3 linked regions of the Homo sapiens genome follow. The protein of the gene in region 1 purifies or fractionates together with the protein of each later gene. This does not show direct contact. Each region holds a gene or a part of one and is shown in the gene's direction. Other genes may lie near its edges. The genes, in order: FTSJ1, GNL3L and WDR6.

Region 1 (9,418 bases):
ACAGAAAGACAGATGGGCGGGAGGAGGGGATGCTAGGGGAGCTTGGAAGACAGGCAGAGACAGGGAGAAAGGGACACACAGGCAGACTCAGAAACAAACAGGTGGGTAGGGATAGGCTCGTGGAAACACCTGCAGAAAGGCAACAGGCAATTGGGCTCAGTCATAGACAGGAGACACAGGCTGGCCAAGAGGTGGGGGACAGAGCCAGACAGCTCCCCAAACAGAGGGTAGGACCAGACACACCAGCTCAGAGAGATGAAGGGGCAGAGAGAGTGGTTGAGGCAGAGAGACTCCTGGAGGGACAGGAGAAAAGAGGCAGAGAGAGGCAGATTCAGGCAGAGAGGCCTGGGGACAGCAGGGGAACAGGTGCAGGGGTAGTAGCCAGGCTATTCCAGGCAGACCTCAGGCAGACAGCCTAGGCACGAGAGGACCCTAGATCTTGGGGGCCCCCAGAGGGAGGCAGGGAGGGCATTTGTGGCTGGGTGGGGAATGTGGACTGTGAACTCACACTGTCCGCAAACTGGGCGGGCACTGTAGTCCTGGACCCCACCCCAAGCGTGGGGTGGGGCTTGTCCAAGCCCTGAGAAGTCCCACTATCTGTCTGTCCGTCTGTCTTCTATGGGAGTCCGTCTGTTCACTCCCCTCCAGGCATATGACAGGCATGCCTGTCCCAGGCAAGCCACGTGTCCGCTACAGGATGTCAGGCAGGGTGGACTTGGGGTCTGGGACCACCTCGACTGGGCTGCTTGAAGCCCAGGTGGACAAGAGGCCTCTGTCTGGGCCCCTCGCCCGCCTGCCCACCCCCGACAGGGAACACAGAATTCCCGGAAAGGCCAGGAGCTGGCTGGGGCTTCAAAGCTGGCCTAGATGCCCTCACCCCACCCACAGTTGGAGGAGGACAAGGGATGGGGCGTTTACTTCCCCACAGCGGGAGAGAGACTCCTGCACACTCAGGAATCGCAGCTACACAACAGGACCCATCACAGCCCCATCAAGGGGCTCAGATACGGGGGCCAACTCGCCATCACTCACAGAGGTGCACAAAGACTCACAGCCACACAAGAGAATAAAGACTGACAGACATGAACACACACAGACTCACCACTGCACGTTAAGAGCAATGGCTCATGGGACAGTCACACACGTGGCCACACAGAGTGACGATAGTCTTACAGCTATCAATACCGACAGGCTCAGAGCCGCTCACAGAGAGCACAGACTAACACAGGGATAGGCTTGTGCCGATTTCCAGACACTCGAGACTCCTGAACCTCACCGCCCGTGGACCCACAGCCATGCCAAAGACAATCAACAGGCAAATCACACACACAGATTCACAGCCACACACAGAGCACACAATTACACACAGCTGATGACATTGTGTGTGGGTCCTGGGTCTTTCCCACACACACGATCCAGGTTCAGATGGCCCTGGATCTGAACCTGAATCCAGGTTCAGATGACCCTGGAGGCAAACTTCCAGGTTCAAGCCCTAAAATGATATCTCTGTGTATGTGAACTTGAATGTGCACTTGTGACCACATGTAACCACATACAGCTCCAGTCACAGAGAGAGGCACTCATAGGCTGACATGATTTTTGTACAAACAGAAAAGCCATAGTCTCCTTCTCTCTCTCTCTCCTCTCTCTCTCTCTCTCACACACACACACACACACAACTGCATTTCAGCAAATGGCTGCACACAGCCGTGTACACACACAGCTAGTCACAAATCAAGTCAGAAAAGAAACATATAGGGAAAGCATATACCTGCACACAAACACAAAGCACAGGAATGCAGAGTACGCTTACTATCGTTGCAAAGAAAAAATCCAGAAACCACACTGAAAGCTACACAAGGAAAAAACAAGAGAACCAGATAGTACTCATACCATGGCACCAGAAGAAACACCCCGAGGGCACACATACCTGCAGCCACTCGCTAAGAAGAGACACAAATACAGCAGCAGACACACAAAGAAAGATACGTGCGCATAGATACACATATAGGAGGGACAAGTACTCTGACACACTTGTCACCCACGACCATTACAAAGGAGACAAACACCCAAGCAACACACACACACAACAACATATAGATGAACTGCACCGACAGACAGTACCAATGCACACGGTTGCCAAAAAAAAAAAAAAAAAAAAGGTATGAGTTGGGCCGGGTGCAGTGGTTCATGCCTGTAATCCCAGCACTTTGGGAGGCCAAGGTGAGTGAATCATGAGGTCAGTAGTTCGAGACCAGCCTGGCCAACGTGGCGAAACCCCGTCTCTACTAAAAATACAAAAAAAATTAGCTGGGCGTGGTGGCGGGTTCCTGTAATCCCAGCTACTCGGGAGGCTGAGGCAAGAGAATTGCTTGAACCTGGAAGGCGGAGGTTGCAGTGAGCCAAGATCGCGCCACTGCACTCCGGCCCAAGCGACAGAGTGAGACTCCATCTCAAAAAAAAAAAAAAAAAAAAGCACAAGTTTGGCAGGCGGCCATAGACAGAACGCAGCACCAGGCAAGTTACATAGGAAGACGCAGGCACAGCTCACATACGTGTGGCTGTGGCTGAGAACGGGCAGGTGAGATACACTCAGCATATTCACACACACGTGCGCACACACTCCTGCCCAACCTCCTCCAGCCTCTGTCTCCTTTCCTATCTACTCTGATTTCTCTCTCCCCTCATACCCCTCCCCCACCCAGAGCCATTACACATCTGTGCTACCAGCTGGCCAGGGAAAGAGACACCTGTCACTAGAGGCTTTGACCCAGATGGCTAAAGGTCGGGGGGTGGGGGGGATGCAGGTATCCATATTTCAAGTCTGAAGTGTCCCGTCCAAATAACTAGCATACTTTATTTGGATTTAAAAAAAAAAAAAAAAGACAACCCCCCTCCCCTCTGCATCCATTCGCCGCCTCCCTGCCACAGCCTCCTGCTCTGATTGCTCCCCTTCCCTCCCAGGGCCTGCCTCTACTGGCCTTCCAACATGGACCAACACAGGGCTACCAGGCACACAGCAGGCGCTCAACAAAGGCCACTTATCTAATGTCGTATTATTATCATTACTTTTATTTCTGCCAAAGGAACTCTTCTACGGGAGAGATGAACCTCCATCCAGCTCTGAGAACCCGACAGCTCTGCTAAGTTTCAGGGCACTGCAGATAGCAGGTGCTCAACATAAGCCGGTATGGCAGCGGGAAAACAAAGGGAATGTGTGATCTGGCTGCTTAGAGGAATTTGCTTTAGAAGGAACAGATGTCTTTAAGCAGGACCGAGGCCTTGAGGCTGTGCCAGGGATAAGAACACTTTGTTAGTTCATCAAAGTAGGGCTCCTTCTCAGGGTCATTTAAGGTTTCTGTTGGTTCAGTAAACCAGACCCTTGTGTGACACATGGGAGTCCCGTGAAATCTGTTAAAAGTCACTTTGGGTTATCATCAGTTCTAAGGAGACATTTGATGAAAACAGCTCACTTCCCGGTAGCATCCAGGGGAGGGAGGGACACAGTGAAGCAGTTAACAGCAAAAGCTTTCTCAGCTCTGCCACTTATTAGCTGTGTGGCTAAACAAGCAAATTCCTAAACCTCACTGAGTCTCAGCTTCCTCAAGGGCCTAATAACGCCTAACTCATTGGGCTATCGAGACAATTGAATTAATTAACACAGGCAGAGCACTTAAGACAATGCTTTACACATAGTTATTGCTCAATACATATTTGTGGGAGGAATTAATGATTTCTTCTCTGCGAAAGCAAAGTCCCACTTGCTGGGCTGCATATGGGATTCCAATCTGTCCTTTCATGCAGGCTCCCCACGGAGTAACTCTTTCCAGTCACTTCCTTTCCTCAAAGCAGCCCCTGGGCAGCAAAGTCCTAGTCCCCTGCCCCTGGGCCACCCCCCTCGTTCCCTCACACTGCTAAGATGCCCCCACCGGGAAAGAGCTGGCCTGGCAGCTCCCCCTTCCTTGACCCCTCCAGGAGGCCAAGGGAAGGACACCTTTACACTCAGTGGGGTGCCGGGTGGGAGCTGCAGGCCGACACCCTACTTCGGGAAGAGCCTGGAGAGTTCAGAGCCTGGCTCCTGTCCCCCAAACCCCCGGTCCTGCTGGAGGAAGCAAGTTTCTTTGCTAAAAGTTAAACATCCTCTTCGTGAGCGACAAGAAAACAGGACGTGGGAAGCGTCCCACAGGGTGAACATGGGCCCCCAATGCCTGGCACCCCCTCCTCTCTTGTGGAGCGGAGGCCTGGTGGCTCGAACCCTTCCTTTCTCACACTCGCTCGCCTCTGCAGGGGAGTCATGTTCCCACAGTCCCACAATGCCCTTGAGTTCTGCTGACAAAGCTCTGGCTTCTTCCCTGGTTCTCAGAGTCTCTACGCCTCCACCCAGGGCTCCATAGAAATGCAGGACGCACCACTGGGGAAAAAATTAAGGAACGAAGCAACAAAAGGATGAATTCAACCAACATTTATTGAACACCAACTGTGCGCCACCCCTGTTCCAGGCACTGGGAGGCAGCAGTGAACATGACAGAACAGGAATCCCTGCCTGGTGAAGCTCGTGTGCTAAGGAATCAATCATTCTGTTTTTTTTTTTTTTCTTGAGACAGGGTCTCACTCTGTCGCCCAAGCTGGAGTGCAGTAGCACGATGTCGGCTCACTGCAACCTCCACCTCCCAGGTTCAAGTGATCCTCCCACCTTGGCCTCCTGAGTAGCTGGGACTAGAGGTGCGCATCACCACGCCCAGCTAATTTTTGTATTTTTAGTAGAGACGGGGTTGCACTATGTTGGCCAGGCTGGTCTCCAACTCCTGACCTCAAGTGATCCCCCCGCCTCGCCCTCCCAAAGTTCTGGGATTATAGGCGTGAGCCACTGCATCCAGCCCTTTTATTTTTTAAAGAGACATGGGTTCTCGCTATGTTGCCCAGACTAGATTCAAACCCCTGGGCTCCAGGGATCCTCCCACCTCAGCCTCTGGAGTAGCTGGGACTAAAGGCACATGCCGCCGCCCCTGGCTAATACTCATATGCATGTTGCCAGGATTAAAATGAATGAACAAAGGGAAGGACATGCTGGAGCCAACTTATACAGGTTGGGAGGAGCTGTTCAATTTTCAGAAATTTTGCAAACTGGTTGTTAAACAGCTGGTTTAACAACTGGTTTTGTTTGTTTGTTGAGACAGGGTCTCACTCTGTCACCCACAGTGGAGTGCAGTGGCAAGATCAAGGCTCACTGCAGCCTTGACCTCCCAGGCTCATGCAATCCTCCCACCTCAGCCTCCCAAGTAGCTGGAACTACTCGCACACACCACCACGCCCGGCTATTTTTATTATTTGTAGAGACGGGGATCTCACCATATTGCCCAGGCTGGTCTTGAAGTCCTGGACTCAAGCGATCCTTCCACCTCAGCCCCCTAAAGTTAAACAGCTATGGTTAAAAATGAAATGATATAAACTTACTCAAAACTGGTAACTTCCTAATTTTACCACATTCCACTATTCTCTATGCTCTTGAGGTCATTTACCCCCATTTTATCTGTATGGTAAAAATAATACATGATAGTGCACTACTGCATCTCTTTTAAACTCCCTGTTCAGTGACCACAGGTCGGTACCTTGAAATCTAACAAGAAGATTGTACCTAAGCCATGGAAATTGGTAAATGCTAGAAACCAGCCTCCCTTCCCCCCACCCCTCCCCGCCACCACCCCCGCCCCAGCCAGTGGTTAACCATTTACCAGCACACCACTGAGGGCATTTAGAGCCTAGCACATGGTAAACACTATGATAAACGTTTTCATTATTTTTCCGTTTGTCCACTGGGTCAGGATGTATAGTCTTTTTTTGTGTCTGGGATGGAATTTAAAATATTTGAAGATCACAGAATTACAAAAGCCCAGAGAGTGGCTAAGCTACACCTATTTAACCCTCCCAATAATGCTGTTAAGTCTATACTATTGATTATCCCCACTTTCCAGACAGGGAAACTGAAGTTCTGAGGCAGTAAAACTCAGGCAGCGCCATGCATTAGCTGTAGTGCGATCTGAAATTGCAGCCGAGCAGCCTCCGCGCGCTCGCGCACTTCAAGAACGCATTTTCCTTACTGTCACGTTTATGCCCCGAGTGGTAATTTCGCTTCCCGGCACGCGAAAAATGAATGGGCGCCATCTTGCGCGTGGCATCTTGGGAAATGTAGTTTACAGGCTCAATAACAAGCACGGTCCAAGAAGGGAGGGGCGGGGGAGCAAATCGATCTTGGCCTCGGAAGAAAAAGAACAAAGAATCGCTGGCAACTTGCGCGTCGCGTCGCTGCAGCCACGCAGTGCGTGGATTCAGCCGCTTTGGCCGTGCCCGTTGCATGCCGGGAAACGCAGTTCGCGAGCCCCGGATACGTCGACAATAGATGACGGGGCTCACGTTGTACGTTCACATCAGGTCCCGGCCCGCCGGAACCTGGGCGATCCACGATGCCGAGTTTGCCACGCTGCGACAGCCCATAGGCTTGCCCCCCCGGGCATTCGGGTGGACTACGAACACAAACTGAAGCCCTAGGACTTGTCGCCCGTTTGCGCTCTCGCCGAGGCACAGGCTGCTCGCGGACCACCCTGCTCCGAAAACTAAGGTGGGCCCTGGGGCGCGGAGGACAGGAATGCGGGCGGAGGCTATTGAGGCACGCCTGCACTGTCCCGCCTGCGGGGAAAGGAGGGAGGTCCGCCCTGGGCGCCGTAGCTGTGTATGGTTCGGGCGGCTGGCACCGGGTGGGTTCTAGACCCAAGGTTTGTCTGCAGAAGGGGACCAGTAGACGGGGTGGATTCGAGGTGGGGACATGGGACGCAGCGGTCGGAGCCGCCTGGAGGGGTACCCGGTGGTCCCGATGGAGCTATCATCTTTGAGGTATTGATGAGGAGGGACGGGGAGTGTGGTCAGAAGGCTGTTTTGGGAGGTTGGGTGGAGCGTGAGGGTGGGGTGTTACTGGGGAATCAATGGGGGCTAATAAGAATATTTTAGTCGAACTGTTGTTCATTGATTGATTAATGAGGGGATGGCAGAGTAAGCAACTAGAATATAACGAGTGATGGATGGGAAAATGATCCCCCAGGTATTGATGGAGGTATGATATTCAACGGGTTAATGGAAAGTGATGGGGCATCGTAATGGCAAGGATGATGGTGAGGTTGTGGGGGGAATAATAGATGGATGGAGGTCATGATCAAGGGGCCTTGGTGAAAGAAAAGATAATGAGAGGCTGATGGTGTTGTAGTCAGAGTCAGTAGTTGGGCTATGGTGGCATGACCGTCGAGGAATTAGGGGACAGAGTGAGTAAAGAGAGGGCAATAGTAAACTAGGGTTGGGGGGGTTAACTTCTGTTGATACATAGTAGGTGAATAGTAAACTGTTGGAGTGTGATCATCCAGTGATGGATCCATGGAGAGCAGGGTGGACAGTGAGGGGAGAATGGGGAACTGATGTGTGATCAGTTAACGTGTTTGTTAATGAAAGAGTTACAGGGCAGGAGGCTAGTGCTGTGATCTATGAAGGGTCTATTGGAGAAAACTGAGTTAATGGGGGCTGATAAATCAGTAATTGAATGCTTAATGGGGAGCTAATAGACCATGATTCTCCAGGCATTGTTAGAGGTTCATAAGGATGTAGTAATAAAGGGGCCTAATCATCTAAGGGATTAATGGCGAATGGGGTGAAACGAGAGAGATATAGGGAGTGGGAGGTACAATGAAGTAGTATTAGGATAAAGGTGGAAAACAAGGGATTAATGGGGGCTAATAGGACTATATGAATCTAGGGGCAATGGGGACAACTGGGGATACAGTCAGTGAGATTTTAATGGGCATGACATGAGCAGAGAAGGGTTGATAGTGGCAGTTGCAGGGTTTAATGTGTGGAGTGTGGGTGACAGTGATGGGAGGTGGACAGGTTCACAAGTGGGCCATCTATGGGATGAATGTTGGGTTTATGGGGTCTTTTGTGGGAACTGTGGGGTAAGTGATGGGGGCGAGGAGGGTCTGTGTGATAAGCAGTGGAGCCTGAGAGTTCAGTGATTGGGTCCTTCAGGCCCTATAAGGTCAGTGGGGTCAGTGCCAGGGCTTCAGTCAGCCCATCTTCTGTGTGAGCTGTCATGTGGGTCAGATGAGCCCAGTTTAGTTTGTGTGGTTCTCTCCGCCCTACAGAGGTAGGTGGTAGCCCATTCATCTGGTTACTGATACTGGCCGGCATCAGTGGACTGTCGGCAGGTCCTTGAGCAACTGGTGTGTGAAATGGGACGGACGTCAAAGGACAAGCGGGATGTCTACTACCGCCTGGCCAAGGAGAATGGCTGGCGTGCTCGCAGCGCCTTCAAACTGCTACAACTGGATAAGGAATTCCAACTCTTCCAAGGTCCCTGACTGGTGGGCAGGTCACTGGGCGGTGAGGTGGGCACAGGAGGTAAACAAGTAGGCTGGGTCTGCAGAGCTCCCTGTGGTAGGTGGGCTGACTCAGAGGGTCTCTGGGGCAGGGAGACAGGCAGGAAGATAGGCAGAATACCGGAGAGGAGTTGGGCACCTGGGCAATGGAGATATGTGGGTGCTCCCCAGGGGAGAGGGGTGAATTTTGCAAGGGTCTCCAGGTTGGAGAAGTGGGTGCAGCTGATCAGGATGCTTTCACTATGTATGCCCAGGCGTGACACGGGCAGTTGACCTGTGTGCAGCCCCAGGCAGCTGGAGCCAGGTGCTGAGCCAGAAGATCGGGTAAGTGTGGGGGTCCCAGATGGGAGACCCAGGAGGGCCGGCTGGGTGGGAGGGGCCCGGGAGCGAAACTAGGCTGATGTGGGCCATGTTGTCCACAGGGGCCAAGGGTCCGGCCACGTGGTGGCTGTGGACCTGCAGGCTATGGCTCCACTACCAGGTGTGGTACAGATCCAGGGGGACATCACCCAGGTAAGAGCATGGCTGAGGGTGTTGGGGTATATCCTGGGTGAAGGCCCTTACCTGGGGTCTATGCAGAGTGGAAGAGAAACAGAGAGGTGATAGAAACAGAGAGAGAAAGAGAGTGAGAGAGTAACCATGGAGAAACAGTCAGCAGGTCATCATTGCACAGACACAGCAGAAAATGATGATGCTGGGTCCCCAGAGGTGGAGCCCAGTCTTAGAGAGGCAAAGCCTGGGAATTTGGCTGACCCAGGGGCTGTGGGCCAGGACCATGGGCAGGCGGGATCTGAGGGCAGCAGTGGAGGGCCGTGGGGCCACTCATCCTCCCTCTCTCCATAGCTGTCCACTGCCAAGGAGATCATCCAGCACTTTAAGGGCTGCCCTGCGGACCTAGTGGTGTGTGACGGGGCTCCTGATGGTAAATAGCAACAGAAAGTGGGAGGCCAGGCGGGGCCCCCTGTGTGTGTCCTTCTCTGTATCTCCCACCTTGGTTGACTTAT
Region 2 (11,144 bases), 6.1 Mb from region 1:
TCAGTGCGTATGGTCTCTCCCCTTTACCCAAGGTAGTGGAGCTCAGATCTGTTTCTCTCCACCCAGGGTAGAATCACAGACGCCCCCACCCCCAAGTATTAGGGCTGATCTATTAATTTATAGCTGCATTGCCAGCCCCCTCCACACACCACCCATGCAGAGAACCAGAGCCCCTATTTCTTTCAGTGTTAGTGTGCCGCTGACTTCAACCAGCATAAAAGATGAAAGTTGTCACAGTCCACCTTCCATAGAAGGGTCCAGAATAGCTCACTGCAGGTAAGGTGCAGACCCGCTTATTCAAAGCTGCATAGTTGTGGAATCAGGCATATCGATCCTGTACCACAGCCCTCTCCAGGGTGAAGAGACGCAGGACCCATCCCCACAATCTAGAGATAAACAGATCTGTGATTCTTTCCCCATGCAGCAGAGATGCACACAGCCACTTTGTGGGTTTCCCCAGTTTCTCTGCACCCCAGAGTAGAGGGACAGATGGCAATCCCCCCAACCCAAATCACCAAGGTATAGACCCCAGGCATATGCAGGCACAGATTTTTACCCCCTCCTCCAAGATTTTGTACTTATCTCAATCCATATAGACACTCAGGTAAGAATCCCTGTTCTCAGGCCCCTTTTCCCCAGGGTAGACTCCTGAGATCTATTTACGCCCTTCCCCACCACCTCTCCCAGGGTAGATGAGATATAGAATCCCCTACTTGGGAAAAGAGGCACTATTATCACCCCATATAGAAATAGACCATCCTTGCATGTCCCTTTCCCCTCAGTGTGGAGGTGTTGAGCACTAGTCCCCTACCTAGAATATAACACTACAGTGTGGAGGAATAAGGACCAAAGACCCCATCTGACCCCATTTGACCCCACTGGGCTCAAAGCCCAGTGGCTTTGAGCCACTGACTCCACCCCGGATGAGGTTGAGACCTATTCCTCCCTTTGGGTAGTATGACACTGCCTTCTCTGTGTGGACTCAGCCATATGAGGCTTTAGCTCCAGCTTCTCCCAGTTTTCCTAATTATTACGCCTTCCTCATAATGTTCTTTAACATTTTACCTTTAGGGGACTTAGGAGGGGGCTTGTGGCATTGTGATTCCCAGCTGTCTTCAAATTGCTTCTTCTCCCATTCTGACAGGAAGAGAGCAAGCAGATTTGAACCTATCTGCTTTCAAGCTGGTCATCATGATGAAACTTAGACACAGTGAGTTTCCTTTACCACCCCTCCCAATCCTGTGCTTTTAATGAATATTCATAGAATTTCACAGCAACTTTTTGTTTTTTTGGTTTTTGTTTTGAGATGGAGTCTCGCTCTGTCACCTAGGCTGGAGTGCAGTGGTGCAATCTCAGTTCACTGCAACCTCCGCCTCCCGGTTTCAAGCATTTCCTGCCTCAGCCTACCGAGTAGCTGGGATTATAGGTGTGTGCCACCATGCCAGGCTACTTTTTGTATTTTTAGTAGAGACGGAGTTTCACCATGTTGGCCAGGCTGGTCTCGAACTCCTGACCGCAAGTCATCTGCCTACGTCGGCCTCCCAAAGTGCTGGGATTACAGGCATGAGCCACTGCGCCCAGCCTTCACAGCAACTTTTAAAAACTGTTGAATATGTTTCACATCACTCAGTCTGGATCTTTTTCATATGGTATCATTGCTGTCCTCCTGACTTCCTTGTAAGAGAATGTTTCCATTATGCCCCATTCTCAATTTACAGATGAGGAAACTGAAGCTTAGCAAGGTTAAGTGACTTGATCTGAGGTGAATTGCGATAAAAACATATCACACTGCCTGTAACCCCGACATGTCCTAACATTTTTCTCTATCAGTTGGTACCATAAGTTGTACTAGTGATTAAGAGCGTGCCTGTAATGCCAGCTGCTTGGGAGGCTGAGGCAGGAGAATCGCTTGAGCCTGGGAAGCAGAGGTTGTGGTGAGCCAAGATCATGCCACTGCACTCCAGTCTGGGCGACAGAGTGAGACGCTGTCTCAAAAAAAAAAAAAAGGAATAAAACAAAACAAAAAAAGAAAAGAAAATGATAACATTTGGATAGCACACTGGCACTGGGCAGGCTGGATGAGGATTGTGCTCTGTTTTCTGTGTGAATGCTGGCCCTGCCAGTGGACAGCTTGGTGGGAAAAAAATACATTTTTTATATAATCATAAAAATGTCATCAAGAATCATACTGTTAATACCAAAAGCAAATAATCATACTTTTATTTTATTTTTTATGTTTTTTTGAGATGGACTCTTGCTTTGTTACCAGTAGAGACGGGGTTTTGCCATGTTGGCCAGTCTGGTCTTGAACTCCTGACCTCAAGTGATCCGCCTGCCTTGGCCTCCCAAAGTGCTGGAATTGCAGGCGTGAACCACCATGCCCGACCAAATAATCATATTTATAAGTAACACAAGAAAGGTGGTAATTATACTTTATTTAGGAACATCTAATACTAGATGATAGAAATATTGATAGTGATGGAAAAGACAAAAATTACCTCGTTAAATAAAGTAGGATATATGCATACTTAAGAATTCTGGCTGTTTAAAAGATAAAGTAGTATCATATAGAAAGATTATATGGAAAAACTGTATTGTGTGGAAAGACTATTAGATGGAAAGATCTTCAGATTTGCTAACTGAAAGCAGGCATTTGCCACTATGCCCCACTAATTTTTTTTTTCAATAGAGATGAGGGTCTTTCTATGTTGTCCAGGCTGGGCTTGAACTGCTGAGCTCAAACAATCCTCCCATCTTGGCTTCCCAAAGTGCTGGGATTACAGGCGTGAGCTACCACACCTGGTTTTTTTTTTTTTTCTTTTTAACAAGAGGGAAAAATAGTCTCAGCTTGGCACTGGTGAGTCTGGAGGGCTACGTTCTCTACCTACTGACCCCCGGATAAACGTGTGGCAGTGAAAACAACAACCACCTTTTGAGAGGCCTGCAAGTGAAGCATTGTCCTTGGGAGAGCCAAGTATCAAGGCAGGAGCTTGGACAATTGATCCCAGGGAGAGGTTGTTAGGGGAGTGCTGATCACCCAGGTGGGAGTTTCAGAGAATGTTGTGGGAAATTTGATGCTACGGCAGAGGAAGGATGAGGGGAATGAAGTCAGTGGGTGTACAGGGACATCTGTGGGTGACAGTATGGGAGATGAGGGATTAGCGAATACAGAGATCTGCTTTTGAGTACTGATGAATTGGTGATTTTAGGCCTAGATGATATTGGTGGATGCATTGAGGCTCAGAGAGGTTTTAAAAAATTCTTCAAGGTCATATAGCTAGGTAGTTGTTGAGCCAGAGTAAGAATGTCTGCTGGTTATAAAATGGTAGCTGTTTTCTCTCTGGAGTTGTTGAAAAACCTATGAGCAGAGGCTCCTGAGTGCTGGGAGGGATGACTGACTGCACCCCCTTCTCCTTTTTCCCTCCCCCCTTCTCTTCTCCCCTCTGAAGCACATTCTTTTTCTCTCCAAGTGATGTGTTTTCTTTCACTGTGTGCTTGTATCCATTGCAGGCACTCAGTTTCCAGGGAAGTTAGGCAGATGGAAATTGTTGAGTGAAATGTCCAGACCTGGTTCATTCCAAACCTCACATTTTTTTTGTTGTTGTTGTTGCAACATGAGTACTTTAGAAGAAAGGAGACTGGTGGTCTGTTTCGTGTTTATTTAAACTGTGTTTATTTAAATTCGACCCATTCACATTTGTTATGAGACGTTTATGTCTGGTCAGATTTCTACCGTCTTATTTTTTATTTATTTATTTTTTGAGATGCAGTCTCGCCCTGTCACCCGGGCTGGAGTGCAATGGCGCGATCTCAGCTCACTGCAACCTCCGCCTCCTGGGTTCAAGCGATTCTCTTGCCTCAGCCTCCCGAGTAGTTGGGATTACAGGTGCCTGCCACCATGCCCAGCTAATTTTTGTATTTTTAGTGGAGACAGGGTTTCACCATGTTGGCCAGGCTGGTCTCGAACTCCTGACCTAGTGATCCGCCCACCTCAGCCTCCCAAAGTGCTGGGATTACAGGTGTGAGCCACCGTGCACGGCTCTCTACCATCTTATTTTATATTTATTATTTATTTTGTTTCCTCTTATTCCCTTATTTATGTTTTGCTAACTTGATGAAGTTTTTAAACAATCCTCCATCGGTAATTAAGTTATGTTGGTAATTGTATTCATATTTATATCAAACATAATTAATTCTGTATTTATCACTTTACCAAAGTTAAATAATGACTATTTTGTAACCTACCCTTTCAAAATGAAACCTTTAGCATGCTTTCATGCTTTTGCTTTTCCAACCCCCATTACTTGATTCCTGGATTTTATTGAAATAATTTGGTATTTCAGTTCTGAGCTATTTCCTTATGATATGCTTCTTCGATTTTAAGAATCCTTTTTTTGTTGTTTTTTTGAGACAGGGTCTCACTCTGTCGGCCAGGCTAGAGTGCAGGTGTGATCATGGCTCACCACAACCTCCGCCTCCTGGGCTCAAGTGATCTTCCTGCCTCAGCCTCCTGAGTAGCTGGGACAACAAACATGTGCCATCACACCTGGCTAATTTTTTTTTTTTTTTGAGACAAGAGTCTTGCTGTGTTGCCCAGGCTGGAGTGCAGTGGTGCGATCTTGGCTCACTGCAACCTCCACCTCCTGGGTTCAAGCAATTTTCCTGCCTCAGCCTCTCGAGTAGCTGGGATTACAGGTGCGTGCCAACACGCCCGGCTAATTTTTGTATTTTTAGTAGAGACGGGGTTTCACCATGTTGGGCAGGCTGGTCTCAAACTCCTGACCTCAAGTCAGGCATCCGGCTAATTTTTGTATTTTTAGTAGAGACGGGGTTTCACCATGTTGGGCAGGCTGGTCTCAAACTCCTAATTTTTGTATTTTTAGTAGAGATGGGGTTTCACCATGTTGGCCAGGCTGGTCTTGAACTTCTGACCTCAAGTGATCCACCCGCCTTGGCCTCCCAAAGTGCAGGGATTATAGCTGTGAGCCATCGCTCCTGGCCTCAGTGATAAGTTTTAGTAGATTTCCGTAGATTTCCTGCCCACCACTGTTTGTTTCCTTTAGCTTGGGATCTTTATTCTGATTTAATTTTTATTTTGCCAGTAGTTTTATCCAAAAGGAAACACAGGGCCAGGCGTGGTGGCTCATGCCTGTAATCCCAGCACTTTGGGAGGCCAAGGCGAGCCAATGACTTGAGGCCAGGAGTTTGAGACCAGCCTGGCCAACATGGCGAAACCCCGTCTCTACTAAAAATAAAAAAATTAGCCAGGCACAGTGGTGCACGCCTGTAATCCCAGCTACTCCAGAGGCTGAGGCAGGAGATTTCCTTGAACCTGGGAGGTGGAGGTTGTAGTGAGCTCAGGTGGCACCACTGCACTCCAGCCTGGGCAACAGAGCGAGACTTTGTCTCAAAAAAAAAAAAAAACAGAGAGAGAGAGGGAGGGAGGGAGGGAGAGACGAAAGAAAGGAAGGAAGGAAAGGAAAGAAAGGAAAGAAAGAAAGGCAAGTGGTAATCTTTGCTCACCTGAAAATGTCTTTTTCTTACTTTCACAAAGTAAGAGTGATCTGTTGGTTAGAATTTTATCTCTTTATCTTTAGAGTTCAGAAATTTCATCAGGATATGTCCAGGGTATGTCTTTTTGGTTGTTAATCTTTTTTTTTTTTTTTTTTGAGACAGGGTCTCTGTTGTCCAGGCTGGAGTGCAATGGTGCCATCATAGCTCATTATAACTTTGAATTCCTGGGATCAACCAGTCCTCCCGCCTCAGCTTCCTGAGAGCTAGGACTACAGGTGCATGCCGCCACACCTGGTTAATTAAACTTTTTTTTTTATATAGACAAGGTCTCACTATGTTGCCTGGATTAGTCGCAAACTCCTAGTGTCAAGCGATCCTCCCACCTCAGCCTCCCAAAATGCTGGGATGACAGGGTGAGCCATGGCACCCGGCCTTGGTTGTTAATCTTGCTGCTGCCTGTGTCTTTCCAGTCTGAAACCTCAAGCCTATGTTCAACTTAAGGAACTTTCGTCTGTTATTCAGAAAATTATTGCTTCTCCATTTGTACCCTTTTCTCTTTCAGGAACTCCTGTTTAGATTTTAGCTGTCTTGGCTCTATTGTCCATTTTTTCTTTTATATTTTTGCTCATCATTTCAATTTCTTTGAATTTTTGCTCTAAGTAAGCCCCTCCTTTGGTCTTCTAGCTTATTAATTTGGTTGTTAGTGATGTCTTTTTTGTTTTTCACTATTTCTATTGAATTTTTTTAAGAGACAGAGTCTCACTATGTTGCCTAGGCTGTTCTCGAACTCCTAGGGTCAAGTGATCCTCTTGCCTCAGCCTCCCAGCTAGCAACAGGCAGGTGCTACTGTGCCCAGCTTAAGTTTTGACTGTTAAAGCAGTCTGTGTTTGTGTATTTTTTTAAGAGATGGGGTCTTGCTTTGTTGCCCAGGCTGGATTAGAACTCCTGGGCTCAAGGGATCCTCCTACCTTAACCTCTCATGTAGCTGGGGCTACAAGCATGCACCACGGCACCCAGCTTTTGAATTTTTATTCAGTGTCAAGTTTTGGAAAATCTTTTTTTCTCACACAGTTCCTTTGAAGTATCTTCTTGATTCTCCTTAAGAATTTGCAGTAGCTCGAGACTAGCCTGGCTAAATGGCAAAACCCCATCTCTACTAAAAATACAAAAATTTGTATTTTTGTATACGAATACGGGAGGCTGAGGCAGGAGAATCGCTTGAACCCGGGAGGCAGAAGTTGCAGTGAGCCCAGATCACACCACTGCACTCCATCCTGGGCAATAGAGCAAGAGTCGGTCTCAAAATAAAAAGAATTTGCAGTAGAACTTAAGTTCTGTTTCGTACCTTAACTCTGCAGTGGGAGCCAACTGATGTGATTGTGGAGCCTGTTCTCTGTGTGGTATTCTCGAGCTGCTCATATAATATATTTGTTTGTATATATCCTGAGCTTCCAGAAACTCCTGTCTCTCTAGGAATTCCTTGAGCCCCTATGAAGGTGGTAAGAATTAAAGGGAGCCATTCTTCCCAATAGGCCAACTGTGAACGGGTTGAGAGATGGGACTTCTTATTGAAGAAGGGGAGAGGCCTCATAAGTTCTTGGGCTTTGCTAAGTCATGATTGGAGAAGTGGTAGATCTCTTCTTTTTGTATCTGAGGGAGGCGGCAGCATTTTGGCTGAGTAGGTCAAGTCCCTTTGGAGGCAATGGCCTGAGCAGGGTCAGCAGGAAGGATGGTTCTTTCCCCACATACTGAGGGCATCTGCCCAGGTTTAGTGGGCTGGGACTCCTTAGATTACCTTCTCATTCTGCCAGCTCCCTCATCTCAGCCTGGCACTTAAATTGTTGAGTTTCCCCCAGTAGGAAGTTCTGGGGGAAAGAGGAGTCACAAGCACATATTCAGGTTTCTCTCTGTACAGAATTCCTCTCAGAATTATTTGAGTTTGCAGTGAAATAATGTGCAAATATTATATCCAGTACTTCCTCTGATACTATTGCTGCCATCCGCATCTCTTGTCTTGTGCTGGATCTAGACAGACATGGTATCTGAGGCTTCCTAGCTAGGTTCCCAGTGTGGCCTGGCCTTGATTCAGATGTCAACAAATATCGTGTAGATGGATGACGGCTCTTTTCTTTCTTTTTTTTCTTTTGTAGAAAATAAAAAGCCAGGTGAAGGTTCCAAGGGCCACAAGAAGATAAGTTGGCCCTACCCTCAGGTAAGGTATGCCTGTTGTTGAGGGTAAGGTCAAGAACAGGTTGCTTGTCCTGGGAGAGGCCCACTAAACCCAGTAAATATTGGGTGACTCTGGACAGAGTGCCACATTGGAGTCAGTGGATCTGGCTTTCCCTCCTTCTCTGGGTGGCCGCAGCAGAGAATCAGCAGCATTTTTCCCAAGTCATATGCAGCTTCGTGCTTGATTTACCTTGGTAGGGATTATCATTATCCCCATGTTTTAGTTGAGGAAACTGTCAGTGAGAAAGTTCCTAGGTTCAAGGTAACGCAACTGGGATTTGAGACTGTCTGATTCTCAAGTCCCTGTTTCTTATGGAGAAGAGGGAGGCCAAAACATCATCTTTGGTTCCTGGATCTCCTGGTCCTGCTGGGAAAGGTGTGGGTAAGTAAGGCTTGGGAAAGAGCAATGAGAAGAAGGTATAGGCCAGAGAAGGCTTGGGTTCTCACAATTTAGCATGGGTGAAGCTCTCAAACTTTAACCAGTCCTCTAGAATCACCTGGAGGATGGGGGAAAACATCGATTGCTGGGCCCCACCTCAGAGTTTCTGATTCAGTAGGTCTGGCATGGCATCCCATGATTTGTATTTCTAGCAAGTTCCCAGGTGCTGCTGCTACTGCTGGTCTGAGGACCACTCTTTTGAGAGTCACTTATCTAGAAAGGTTTTCCCTGGGCCTTGGGAAACCTTCCCAGCTGCCCTTCCCCTCTGAGAGGTCTCCTGTCAGTCCCTGCCTAGCTATAGGAGAGAGGACCTCTACCCAGCCAGATGGGCAGATCTTTGGGGATGGAGCCCTTTTTGCTTCTCTCCTTTCTTTGTCCCCACAACTACACTTATCTGAGAAGCTTTAACTCCTGCTGCTCACCTTGGGAGTGAGGGGATGAGAGGATGAGAGGATTGAGAGATAGAAGGGGCATTTATGAGGGGATGTTGTCTTCCTTCTAGGGCTTCTTGCTGCCTTTTTGAGGTGATTTCCATGGGTTCATTACCTCTGTTTTTTTTCTCTTATGTGGTGGCCAGCCTGCAAAGCAAAATGGGAAGAAAGCAACCTCCAAAGTGCCCTCTGCACCTCATTTTGTTCACCCCAATGATCATGCCAATCGAGAGGCTGAATTAAAGAAGAAGTGGGTAAGCTTTTTGCCTTGGTGGGGAGAGAGAGGGCCTGCCTTGAATGCCAGGTCCGCAGAAGTGTTGAATGGAAGGGCAAAGGCAAGAGTTGTTAGGGTTGTTGAGGCTATTTGTGGAAGCCGGGAGAGAGGGAGGTTACCATGATACTGGATTTATGTCTGCGTTTGTTCACCACCCAGTCCATTGCTGTCTGGCTTATGCTTCCACTGCTCTGCTGACACTGCCCCTGCTGGCCTCATCAGCGCCTTCCCTGACATCACATTCATGAATAGTATTCTTCCCTCATCTTATTGGAATGCTCAGCATTTGAGGCTATGCTTTCTTTGAAGCATGTGGACTTTCTTGTCATCTCACTCTCCTGGATGTCTTTCTTCTTTGACTAGCCACTGACAGTCTCTTTTGCCACTTTTTCCCCTTTCTTATCTTTTTTTTTGAGATGGAATTTCACCTTGTTGTCCCGGCTGGAGTGCAGTGGTGTGATCTCGATTCACTGCAACCTCTACCTCCCGGGTTCAAGCGATTCTCCTGCCTCAGCCTCCTGAGTAGCTGGGATTACAGGCATGCACCACCACGCCCAGCTAATTTTGTATTTTTAGTAGAGATGGAGTTTCACCATGTTGGTCAGGCTGGTCTTGAACTCCTGACCTCAGGTGATCCACCTGCCTTGGCCTCCCAAAGTGTTGAGATTACAGGCGTGAGCCACCCTGCCCAGCCTTCTTCCTTATCTTTAAATGATGAAGCATCCCAGGACCTTGGCTTCTTTCCATCTCTGGTCTTAAGTGGTTCCGCCTGCCTAGGATACATTCTCTCTCTGCTTTTTATACCCTCTTTTCTCTGCAACTCTTTCCTTCCCTTCATCTCTCTTTTTCTTCTTCTCAAACCCTCATCTCCTGATGTCATATCTTCCCTCTCCCTGGACCCTGCTCCTGCCACCTCTGCCATGTCGCACCATTTCCTCTGTCTGTCACCCATCCCTCCCTTAGGCTGCAGACCCAGTCAGCTCCAGTACCAGTGTGTGTTCACTTGTTAGGTTGAGGAGATGAGGGAGAAGCAGCAAGCCGCCCGGGAGCAAGAAAGACAAAAACGCAGGACCATTGAGAGCTACTGTCAGGATGTCCTAAGACGCCAGGAGGAGTTTGAGCATAAGGTAAGAGTGCAGCCCTTGCCCCTGGGTAGGTTTGCTCAAAGCATCTTTTGCCGTTTTTCTGTGAAAGGGAAGAAGGTGTGAAGTTGTTGGAGGGGAACAAGGGAATCAGTGTAGAGAGGATAGAAAACCATGGGGACGGACGAAGGGAGGGAGGGAGGGATAAAGGGAGATAAAGGGCCATTTTGAGCCTTACCCGTGACTGGACACCTCTGGAGAGCTCCTCTCTCCCAAGGTTGAGCCTGAAGACTGGGGCTGGTGGCGGAGTTGGGGGCTGGGAGAGTTACATGTGACCAGGGGATGGGGTTGGGGGAGAGGGAGCGAAAGTATGAGGAGAGGATTGAGAGACAGAGAGGAGCATATGTGAGGGGATGTTGTCTTCCTTCTAGGGCTTCTTGCTGCCTTTTTGGCAGATGTTCTTGTTTCACACACAGAATACACGCTTGCCAGCTCATACTCCCTTTTCTGATATGCAGTGTGTATGCCTCCCCCATCCTGTGTCCCTCATAGATTGTTTTTTTCACACCTCCCTCCTCCATCCCTCCCTTTCACACCCATGTGCACACTCAGGTCTCCACCTGGTGCTCGAGCACACGTATACACATAGGCGCACACATGAACCATGGGGTTCTGTCCATTTTTCTTCCAGTTCCCAGCTTTATTGGTTGGTCAAAGCTACTTTTTGGTGGCCTGAGACTCACATGATTTATTTTTTAAATTATTATTTTACTTTAAGTTCTAGGGTACACGTGCACAACGTGCAGGTTTGTTACATATGTATCCATGTGCCATGTTGGTGTGCTGCACCCATTAACTTGTCATTTACATTAGGTATATCTCCTAATGCTATCCCTCCGCCCTCCCCCCACCCTACAACAGTCCCCGGTGTGTGATGTTCCCCTTCCTGTGTCCAAGTGTTCTCATTGTTCAATTCCCACCTATGAGTGAGAACATGGGGTGTTTGGTTTTTTTGTCCTTGAAATAGTTTGCTGAGAATGATGGTTTCCAGCTTCATCCATGTCCCTACAAAGGACATGAACTCATCATTTTTTATGGCTGCATAGTATTCCATTGTGTATATGTGCCACATTTTCTTAATCCAGTCTATCATTGTTGGACATTTGGGTTGGTTC
Region 3 (10,440 bases), on another chromosome or scaffold:
TGCAAACCCTCCCATTGCTCCCCACCCCCCCCCCCCCGCCCCAACATTTCCCAGTCCCCCTCTTCCGCCTCCTTTCCTCTGGCTAACTGCTGCTTATCCTTGAATCCTAACTCTAAATATTGTGTCCTCAAGTTGGCCTCCCCTTACACTCACCCAGTCTTGTTAGATTAGACCAGGGTTTTCTCAATCTTGCCTCGATTGACCTTTTAGACCAGATAATTCTTTGTTGGAATGCTGTTTGTGCATTGTAGGATGTTTAGCATCATCCCTGGCCTTACTTGCCAGTAGCACAACCCCTGGAGACAGCCGTACGTGTCTCCAGCTATTGCTAGATGTCTCCTGTGGGGAAAGTTGCCCCCTGTGGAGAACCACTGGATTAGACTTTCTCATTTTACATCTTTTATTTTCTTTTTGCATTGTCAAAATCCTTCTCATTTTATTTTACTTTTTTTTTTTTTGAGACAGAGTCTTGCTCTATTGCTCAGGGTGGAGTGCAGTGGTGCAATCTCAGGTCACTGCAACTTCCACCTCTTGGGCTCAAGAGATCCTCTCACCTCAGCCTCCCAAGTAGCTGGGACTACAGGCATGCGCCATTATGCCCAGCTCATTTGTATAATTTTTTTAGAGGTGGAGTTTTGCCCTGTTGCCCAGGCTGGTCTCAAACTCCTGGGCTTAAGCGAGCCTCCTGCCTTCCAAAGTGCTGGGATTATCGGTGTGAGCCACTGTGCCAGGCCCCATCTCTATTTTTTTTTTAATTAAAAAAAAAAAGTGAGGTGAGGAGGAGGCTCTGAGTTTGAGAAATTTGTGGTTGAAGTGAACATCAAGCGTGACTGATGAGGCTGGGCGCGGTGGCTCACGCCTGTATTCCCAGCACTTTGGGAGGCCGAGGTGGGCGGATCATGAGGTCAGGAGATCGAGACCATCCTGGCTAACACAGTGAAACCCCGTCTCTACTAAAAATACAAAAAATTAGCCGGGCATGGTGGCGGATGCCTGTAGTCCCAGCTACTTGGGAGGCTGAGGCAGGAGGATGGCGTAAACCTGGGAGGCAGAGCTTGTAGTGAGCCAAGATCGCGCCACAGCACTCCAGCTTGGGCGGCAGAGTGAGACTTTGTCTCAAAAAAAAAAAAGAGTGACTGATGAGGGGGCCGGGCACAATGGCTCACGCCTGTAATCCCGGCACTTTGGGAGGCCAAGGTGGGTGGATCACCGCAGGTCAGGAGTTCGAGACCAGCGTGGCCAACATGGTGAAACCCTGTCTCTACTAAAAATATAAAAACTGGTCGGGCTTGGTGGCTCACGCCTATAATCCCAGCACTTTGGGAGGCTGAGGCGGGCAGATCACGAGGTCAGGAGATCGAGATCATCCTGGCTAACACGGTGAAACCCTGTCTCTATTAAAAATACAAAAAATTAGCCGGGCATGGGGGCAGGCCCCTGTAGTCCCAGCTACTCGGGAGGCTGAGGCAGGAGAATGGCCTGAACCCGGGAGGTGGAACTTGCAGTGAGCTGAGATCGTGCCACTGCACTCCAGCCTGGGCTACAGAGCAAGACTCCGTCTCAAAAAAAAAAAAAAAAAACTAGCCAGGTGTGGTGGTGGGCGCCTGTAATTCCAGCTACTTGGGAGGCTGAGGCAGGAGAGTTGCTTGAACCCAGGAGATGGAGGTTGCAGTGAGCTGCACGGTGCCACTGCACTCCAGCCTCAGCGACAGAATGAGACTCTGTCTCAAAAAAAAAAAGAATGACTGATGAGGGAAGCACAAAGTCAGCACTGAAAGTCCAGCTGAAGCTGAGACCAAGGATTTTCTTTTTTCTTTTTTTTTTTTTGAGTCTTTCGCCCAGGCTGGAGTGAAGTGGTATGATCTTGGCTCACTGCAACCTCCACCCGCTGGGTTCAAGCGATTCTCCTGCCTCAGCCTCCTGAGTAGCTGGGATTACAGGCACGTGCCACCACACCTGGCTAATTTTTTAGTAGAGATGGGGTTTTCACCTTGTTGGCCAGGCTAGTCCTGAACCCCTGACCTCAGGTGATTCATCCGCCTGGGCTTCCCAAAGTGCTAGGATTACAGGCGTGAGCCACCGTGCCTGGCCGAGACCAAGGATTTTCTTTTTTTTTTTTTTCTTTTGAGACAGAGTCTGGCTTTGGCTTTCCAAAGTGCCCAGATTACAGGCGTGAGCCACCGCACCCGGCCGAGACCAAGGATTTTCTAAGATTCAAGCTGCAGGATTGTGTGTCCTGATGCATTCATAGGCTACATGCCGAGAAGTTTCCCTGATCCCCATCTCTTCCCTGTGGGTCATCAGAGTTAGGTACCTAGCTCTGACATGGCTCTTTGCCTCTATCTAGGTGAGGGTCCCGATGTCCTGGTGTACAGCTTGGACTTTGGTGGGCATCTGCGGATGATAAAGCGAGTGCAGAACCTGCTTGGCCACTATCTTATCCATGGCTTCCGGGTACGGCCAGAGCCTAATGGAGACCTTGACTTGGAGGCCATGGTGGCTGTGTTTGGAAGCAAGGGACTCCGAGTTGTGAAAATTAGCTGGGGACAGGGCCACTTCTGGGAGCTTTGGCGCTCTGGCCTGTGGAACATGTCTGACTGGATTTGGGATGCACGCTGGCTTGAGGGAAATATAGCCTTGGCCCTGGGCCACAACTCAGTGGTGCTATATGACCCTGTAGTAGGGTGCATCCTGCAAGAGGTGCCCTGCACAGACAGGTGCACCCTCTCTTCAGCCTGCCTGATTGGAGACGCCTGGAAGGAGCTGACCATAGTGGCAGGTGCTGTTTCCAACCAGCTCTTGGTCTGGTACCCAGCAACTGCCTTAGCAGACAACAAACCTGTAGCACCTGACCGACGAATCAGTGGGCATGTGGGCATCATCTTCAGCATGTCATACCTGGAAAGCAAGGGATTGCTGGCTACAGCTTCAGAAGACCGAAGCGTTCGTATCTGGAAGGTGGGCGACCTGCGAGTGCCTGGGGGTCGGGTGCAGAATATTGGGCACTGCTTTGGGCACAGCGCCCGTGTGTGGCAGGTCAAGCTTCTAGAGAATTACCTTATCAGTGCAGGAGAGGATTGTGTCTGCTTGGTGTGGAGCCATGAAGGTGAGATCCTCCAGGCCTTTCGGGGACACCAGGGACGTGGGATCCGGGCCATAGCTGCCCATGAGAGGCAGGCCTGGGTGATCACTGGGGGTGATGACTCAGGCATTCGGCTGTGGCACTTGGTAGGGCGTGGGTACCGGGGATTGGGGGTCTCGGCTCTCTGCTTCAAGTCCCGTAGTAGGCCAGGTACACTCAAGGCTGTGACTCTGGCTGGCTCTTGGCGACTGCTGGCAGTGACTGATACAGGGGCCCTGTATCTCTATGACGTCGAGGTCAAGTGCTGGGAGCAGCTGCTAGAGGATAAACATTTCCAGTCCTACTGCCTGCTGGAGGCAGCTCCTGGTCCCGAGGGCTTCGGATTGTGTGCTATGGCCAATGGGGAAGGTCGTGTCAAGGTTGTCCCCATCAACACTCCAACTGCTGCTGTGGACCAGACCCTGTTTCCTGGGAAGGTGCACAGCTTGAGCTGGGCCCTGCGTGGTTATGAGGAGCTCCTGTTGCTGGCATCGGGCCCTGGCGGGGTAGTAGCTTGCCTAGAGATCTCAGCCGCACCCTCTGGCAAGGCCATCTTTGTCAAGGAACGTTGTCGGTACCTGCTGCCCCCAAGCAAGCAGAGATGGCACACATGCAGTGCCTTCCTACCCCCAGGTGACTTCCTGGTGTGTGGTGACCGCCGGGGCTCTGTGCTGCTATTCCCCTCCAGACCAGGTCTGCTCAAGGACCCTGGGGTGGGAGGCAAGGCTCGGGCTGGTGCTGGGGCACCTGTAGTGGGTAGTGGTAGTAGTGGGGGTGGGAATGCTTTCACTGGGTTGGGCCCAGTGTCTACCCTGCCCTCTCTGCACGGGAAGCAGGGTGTGACCTCAGTCACATGCCATGGTGGCTATGTGTATACCACAGGGCGTGATGGAGCCTACTACCAGCTGTTTGTACGAGACGGCCAGCTCCAGCCAGTCCTAAGGCAGAAGTCCTGTCGAGGCATGAACTGGCTAGCTGGGCTCCGTATAGTGCCCGATGGGAGCATGGTTATCCTGGGTTTCCATGCCAATGAGTTTGTGGTGTGGAACCCTCGGTCACACGAGAAGCTGCACATCGTCAACTGTGGTGGAGGGCACCGTTCGTGGGCATTCTCTGATACTGAGGCGGCCATGGCCTTTGCTTACCTCAAGGATGGGGATGTCATGCTGTACAGGGCTCTGGGTGGCTGCACCCGGCCACACGTGATTCTCCGGGAGGGTCTGCATGGCCGTGAGATCACTTGTGTAAAGCGTGTGGGCACCATTACCCTGGGGCCTGAATATGGAGTGCCCAGCTTCATGCAGCCTGATGACCTGGAGCCTGGCAGTGAGGGGCCCGACTTGACTGACATTGTGATCACATGTAGTGAGGACACTACTGTCTGTGTCCTAGCACTCCCTACAACCACAGGCTCAGCCCACGCACTCACAGCTGTTTGTAACCATATCTCCTCGGTACGTGCTGTGGCTGTGTGGGGCATTGGCACCCCAGGTGGCCCTCAGGATCCTCAGCCAGGCCTGACTGCCCATGTGGTGTCTGCGGGGGGGCGGGCTGAGATGCACTGCTTCAGCATCATGGTTACTCCGGACCCCAGCACCCCAAGCCGCCTCGCCTGCCATGTCATGCACCTTTCGTCCCACCGGCTAGATGAGTATTGGGACCGGCAACGCAATCGGCATCGGATGGTTAAGGTAGACCCAGAGACCAGGTAATATATGCTCCTGGGCAGGGTGTGGTATGGGTCATGCAGATGCTCCCAGGCTTGCAGGCTCCACCTGACAGCTGCATGTTGTCTCTGCAGGTACATGTCCCTTGCTGTGTGTGAACTTGACCAGCCCGGCCTTGGCCCCCTTGTGGCTGCAGCCTGTAGTGATGGGGCCGTAAGGTGAGAGCATAGGGCCCAGTGGGACAGGAGACAAAGGAAGTAAGGTTGTCTAGGATGCGTTCTGAGCTGGGCCACCCCCCGCCCCCCAGGCTCTTTCTTTTGCAGGATTCTGGGCGGATTCTGCAGCTCCTTGCTGAAACCTTCCACCATAAGCGATGTGTCCTCAAGGTCCACTCCTTTACACACGAGGCACCCAACCAGAGGCGGTGAGAGGGGCTGGATGATGGTCCTGCATGGGCTGGGTTGGGGGGTTCCTGTTGAGCTTCATCTCTGTTATTGACCAGGCTGTCTTTTCCTGGCTCTCAGGAGGCTCCTCCTGTGCAGCGCAGCTACTGATGGCAGCCTGGCTTTCTGGGATCTCACCACCATGCTAGACCATGACTCCACTGTCCTGGAGCCTCCAGTGGATCCTGGGCTTCCCTACCGTGAGTAGCTAATGTGCAACCATGGCTACCCCTCCTCACCTGTCACATAGCCCTCACACATGTGGCAGGCGGGGCCCTGACAACTACCCTCTTCCTCTTCCTTCAGGGCTTGGCACCCCCTCCCTGACTCTCCAGGCCCACAGCTGTGGTATCAACAGCCTGCACACCTTGCCCACCCGTGAGGGCCACCATCTCGTGGCCAGTGGCAGTGAAGATGGATCCCTCCATGTCTTCGTGCTTGCTGTGGAGATGCTACAGCTAGAAGAGGCTGTGGGAGAGGCTGGGCTGGTACCCCAGCTGCGTGTGCTAGAGGAATACTCTGTCCCCTGTGCACATGCTGCCCATGTGACAGGCCTCAAGATCCTAAGCCCAAGCATCATGGTCTCAGCCTCCATTGATCAACGGCTGACCTTCTGGCGTCTGGGGCATGGTGAACCCACCTTCATGAATAGCACTGTGTTCCATGTGCCTGATGTGGCTGACATGGACTGCTGGCCTGTGAGCCCTGAGTTTGGCCACCGTTGTGCCCTTGGGGGTCAGGGGCTTGAGGTTTACAACTGGTATGACTGAGGTATCCTGCGGTGGCTGGCGTGCTGGGCATGGGGCCTGCTCACAGACAGCATGGAGCAGGGATGGGCTGTCTGTGCCCATGCTCAGCATGCCTTGAGGGGAGGAGGTGGTGGCCGTGGGTTCCTGATGTCGGTGCAGGAGCTGAAGGTGAGTGGAGTGCTGCCAAGAATATGCCCGACTCCCCATGACAAGACAGAACTTTGTAACAAACAGTACCAATTTATTTTGGCCGTGGGTTTTTGCTTTTTTTCCAGTTGATGACTTTGTGAACATTCCCAGGTATTGGAGCCTCTGTGGCCTTAAATGTGGCTCAGTGGAGGGAGACCCAGCATAGCCAGGCCAGTATGGAGCACCTCACGCACAGCTCTCAGAAGCTGCAGGCGGACGAACATCTGACCAAAGAGGTGTGGTCGAGGCTCCTGAAAGAGAAAGGGCCTGCTGGTCTCATCCTCTGCTTCCTTTGCCTTTACCCTATACCTCTCTGCACGTCCCACCCCATTTTGCTGTGTGCTCACCCCCAGGATGTGTACCCGGTTGTAGTAGGAGCTGAAATCCATGCTGAGCTGTACCAGGAACTTGCATATCTAGAGACAGAGACTGAGTCACTGGCCCATCTCTTTGCTCTTGTGCCCCAGGCCAGAATAAAGAATAGAGTGTAGAGTGTCCTGGTTGTCTATGCCTCACCATCTCTGTGCGTACAGCAATGTGGAGCCCCGGGGCTGTGCAGTCCAGCACTGCTGTCCGGCTCAGCAGATCCGGAAAGGGGAGGATACTGTTGAAGAGCAACAACCACTCACCCTGTTGGGGAGAAAGGTGCTGGGAGGGGAAGTCCAGGCCTCCTTGTGCCAGCTACCAGGAGGGACACTCACCTCATCATGTAGCAGTGAGAAGTCCAGACTGCTCACAGGAGGAAAAGTGGGGTACAGACCTTGTTCCATACTACACTTGTAACTCTCAAAGAGTGTGGCAAGACGGGCACAATTATACATGACAAAGGTGCCACTCTTTGTGCCCTTCGTGGAGATACTGCTGTCAGCCAGAGCCAGGAAGAGCTGGGGAATAGAAGCACAGCTGCAGAGAGAGAAGGCAGCCACCACACCCTGTGCCCCAACACTGGCCCTGTCAGGCTCCCAGGCTCACCTGACTCTGTGGGGCTGTGCTCAGCATCTCAAACTTGATGGTGGCCACAGAGAGAACACCAAAGATCTCTGTCCAGGCTGGGTCTGAGGGAGTATAGGGTTGGTCAGTCAGTCTGCAGGCAAGGGCAGGGATGCAAAAAACCTGCCCCTAACCCAGAACATAGCCAGGGTTTCCCAGGCACACCTTGTGCCAGATCCCCACCATGCTTCAGTGCTGAGGCCTTGCACACCTGGGTATGCCGGAACCTGTGTTTGGAAGAGAGGAAGGCCAGTGGGCAGGGTCCTGGGTAAAGAGTCCCCCCTCATTACCCTGGCTTAGGTTGGTGTTCCTCCCAGCCTCACTCACTCGTAGTACTCAGGGGCAGTCATCAGAGTGCCAGGTGCACCAGCTACTTTCACAGGGCCACAGATGAGGTGCTTCTGTCAGAAAGATGTCAGGGGCTCAGCCTAGTTGGCGCTACTCTCCAGGAAGTCCCTTGAGGAGCCCAAATCTGGTGCCTCTACTCAGCCCAGACTCCCTCAAATTGGAACTGCCAGGTTGAGTGCCTCCGTCTACCCAGCCACTCAGGCTACGCATGGTTCATCCTTCTCAACCTGGTCTTCAGTGTTCTTGGGATGTGTCTACAGACCCCCCTTCCCCAGAGCCTCTGCACCTGCTGTACATGCCCTCTCAAGTCCAGCAACTCCCCCAAGGTCAAGTGTTGGTTTCTGTCAGCTAACAAGCCCCTCGGTGGGTTTTCAAGGGCCCTCTGAGGTTGGGGGTTAGGTGGTGGGGAGCTCCACCATCATTATTAACCTACCTGTCTGAGTGGAGCCTTGTCAACCAACTTCTGCCAAAGCAGGTCCAACTTCTGTTGCTGGAACTCCTCCTCACAGCTAACAACATGTACAACCAGGCAGCCGCCTGTACCAGTATCTGAGGCCCCAGCCTAAGGGAGGACAATCATAACTGTGGAAGTACAGTATACTTGGTTTGGGAGAACCTACAGGGCTGGGAGTCACTAACCAGGCCTGGGTGGCTGTCCTCGGGCCAATGCCATAGAGCCTCTTGCAGCTCAGCCAGCACAGAGAGGAGATCCTCAGTCACTGAAAAGAGAACAGACAGGTGCTGAGACTGACAAGAAGCAGAGATGTGCCCCTAACCCCCTCCTGCCTTTTCTGGCCCTGCTAGGCTTCAGGTCCTACCCAGACAGTTGTCCAGGTTGGGGTCATAGCCAGCTGTGCGGCCCTGTTCTTCCACCAGCTCCTTCAGACACAGTCTGCCTAGGATGCCAGGGGACAGTGTCCTCCCGTCATTAGCAGAGGTAAGTTCTTCAAGGGCGTGGCTCCTCAGGGTGTGGGAGGAAGCTCTCTCCGAGGCAGCGGGCCAGTCCACCCGCAGTTGCTGCAGGAAGGTCAGCATGTGCGGATCCCGCACAGCTGGCACTAGGCGCACGCACACCCTGCGAAGGGAGGGCGGCCGCCTCAGTCTGAGCACCTGGTCCAGCTCGCCACGACTTCCCACCTCCAGCCGCAGTCCCCACGGGCGGCGCCGCTCGCTTTCTAGGTACCCGGCAGTCCCACTTTCTCCATTCCGGCCCCGCGGCCCCGCTCACCCGTGAGCGCGCAGGGCTCGCGCCAGGTGATCGGCCACGAGCACCGTACGCAGCTGGCTCAAGCGGAGTGCGCAGGGGGAGCTGCGCAGTGCTGGGCAGTGTAGTAAGACGCGCTGGCCCAGCGAGGCAGGCGAGGCGGGCGTGGCATAGGCGGCCACGGCGCTGAGGACGCGCTCGAAGACGGCGGACCGCTGCAGTTGGAGAGACAGACCCGCGGGGGTCGGCGCGCAGCGCAGCACCGGGGCCACACCGGGGCCCTGCAGGCAGGCGAGGGCATGGAGCAAATGCTCCGGAACCTGCGGGAGAACGGGCGTGTAAAAGAGCCACGGCACGGGGCCCATCTCCCGGCCGCACGGCCCCGCCCGGCTCACGCCCACCTGGCCGTCATCGAAGCGCGCCTGCAGCGCGCGGTGCGGTGCCAGAAAGTCTCGGGAACGCAGGTGGCGGGTGCGCGTCTCCTTGATCCACACCGGACCGCCTGGCCCCAGGGCCGCGTTGAGGGCCCCCAGCGTCTCCCCGACCCCAAGGCGCCTGGTCGCCATGGTGACCGGAAGGAGTAAGCGGAACCGGAAAAAAATTTAGGGAGGTGGAACTTCCGGAAAGGACCGACTAGCTGGGGCGGGGATGCGGCGGTGGTCCCCGTAAGTGGACAGGTGCGCCAGTGGTAGCCCTGTCGGCTGCTTTCGACCTACCGCCCCCAGCGCCCCTTCCGCGTGGTCCACCTGCACAGCCGGGCCCCGGATCTGAAATCTCGGGGCCCTCCCTGGGCCTAGGGTTCTTTCGCTGTGACCCAGGCCTTAACCAGGAAAAGGATCCTCGCGACCCGGTGGGCGCTTAGACCGGGTACCGTCTCTTCTCATCGAAGTCTCACATGTTTGTTTTAATAACATTTCATTTCTCCCATTTTACACATGATGAATATTCGTCACTGGAATAAGGCAGTATAACATTAAGGCCACTTTCACGACCTACTTAAAATATCTCGTTTTAAAAAGAATAGTGTTCCGCGGTTTCAGGTTATTTGCAAGCATTTTCTCGTTTGAGATATGGGTGTTTTTTTGTTTGTTTGAGACGGAGTCTTGCTCTTGTCTCCCAGGCTGGAGTGCAGTGGCACGATCTCGGCTCACTGCAGCCTCCACCTCCCGGATTCACAGGATTCTCCTCCTCAGCCTCCCGAGTAGCTGGGATTACGGGCGCCCGCCACCACGCCCGGCTAATTTTTGTATTTTTAGTAGAGACGGGGTTTCGCCATGTTGGCCAGGCTGGTCTCGAACTCCTGACCTCGTGACCTGCCCGCCTCGGCCTCCGAAAGTGCTGGGATTACAGGCATCAGCCACTGCACCCAGCCCGGGTGGTCTTTATGCCCAATAAATAAGCACTCTGATACAGTTGGCGGTTTTCTTCTCTTGATACCTGAGAAATCACAACCATCATGATGGCTTCCAGAATTACCAGACTTTTTTTTTTTTTTTTTGAGACGGAGTTTCGCTCCTGTTGCCCAGGCTGGAGTACAGTGGTGTGATCTTGGCTCACCGCAACCTCCCCCTCCCGGGTTCAAGTGATTATCCTGCCTCAGTCTCCCAAGTAGCTGGGATTACAGGCACGCGCCACCACGCCCGGCTACTTTTGTATTTTTAATAGAGACGGGGTTTCTCCATGTTTGTCAAGCCTCGAACTCCCGACCTCAGGTGATCCGCCTGCCTCG

The links.
Region 2: the proteins of FTSJ1 (region 1) and GNL3L purify together in Homo sapiens (affinity purification with mass spectrometry; 2 studies listed by BioGRID and IntAct, with this or other methods). This does not show direct contact.
Region 3: the proteins of FTSJ1 (region 1) and WDR6 purify together in Homo sapiens (affinity purification with mass spectrometry; 3 studies listed by BioGRID and IntAct, with this or other methods). This does not show direct contact.

What each region holds. Positions count from the first base shown.
Region 1 is NC_000023.11:48,469,781-48,479,198, forward strand, and holds the start of FTSJ1 (tRNA (cytidine(32)/guanosine(34)-2'-O)-methyltransferase), read left to right. Parts: upstream 1-6,418; 5' UTR 6,419-6,616; intron 6,617-6,782; exon of another isoform or gene 6,783-6,888; intron 6,889-8,180; 5' UTR 8,181-8,267; coding exon 8,268-8,388; intron 8,389-8,668; coding exon 8,669-8,738; intron 8,739-8,836; coding exon 8,837-8,927; intron 8,928-9,257; coding exon 9,258-9,336; intron 9,337-9,418. UniProt on the Homo sapiens protein: Methylates the 2'-O-ribose of nucleotides at positions 32 and 34 of the tRNA anticodon loop of substrate tRNAs. Requisite for faithful cytoplasmic translation.
Region 2 is NC_000023.11:54,531,376-54,542,519, forward strand, and holds part of GNL3L (guanine nucleotide-binding protein-like 3-like protein), read left to right. Parts: intron 1-1,144; 5' UTR 1,145-1,191; coding exon 1,192-1,210; intron 1,211-7,664; coding exon 7,665-7,726; intron 7,727-8,759; coding exon 8,760-8,867; intron 8,868-9,897; coding exon 9,898-10,014; intron 10,015-11,144.
Region 3 is NC_000003.12:49,009,288-49,019,727, forward strand, and holds the end of WDR6 (tRNA (34-2'-O)-methyltransferase regulator WDR6), read left to right. Parts: intron 1-2,133; exon of another isoform or gene 2,134-2,325; coding exon of another isoform or gene 2,326-2,347; coding exon 2,348-4,829; intron 4,830-4,922; coding exon 4,923-5,006; intron 5,007-5,095; coding exon 5,096-5,212; intron 5,213-5,290; coding exon of another isoform or gene 5,291-5,312; coding exon 5,313-5,431; intron 5,432-5,537; coding exon 5,538-6,001; 3' UTR 6,002-6,300; downstream 6,301-10,440. Other genes in the region: DALRD3 (DALR anticodon-binding domain-containing protein 3), read right to left, coding at 6,301-6,585, 6,686-6,799, 6,871-7,053, 7,142-7,224, 7,325-7,386, 7,487-7,560, 7,941-8,069, 8,147-8,226 and 3 more. UniProt on the Homo sapiens protein: Together with methyltransferase FTSJ1, methylates the 2'-O-ribose of nucleotides at position 34 of the tRNA anticodon loop of substrate tRNAs. Required for the correct positioning of the substrate tRNA for methylation.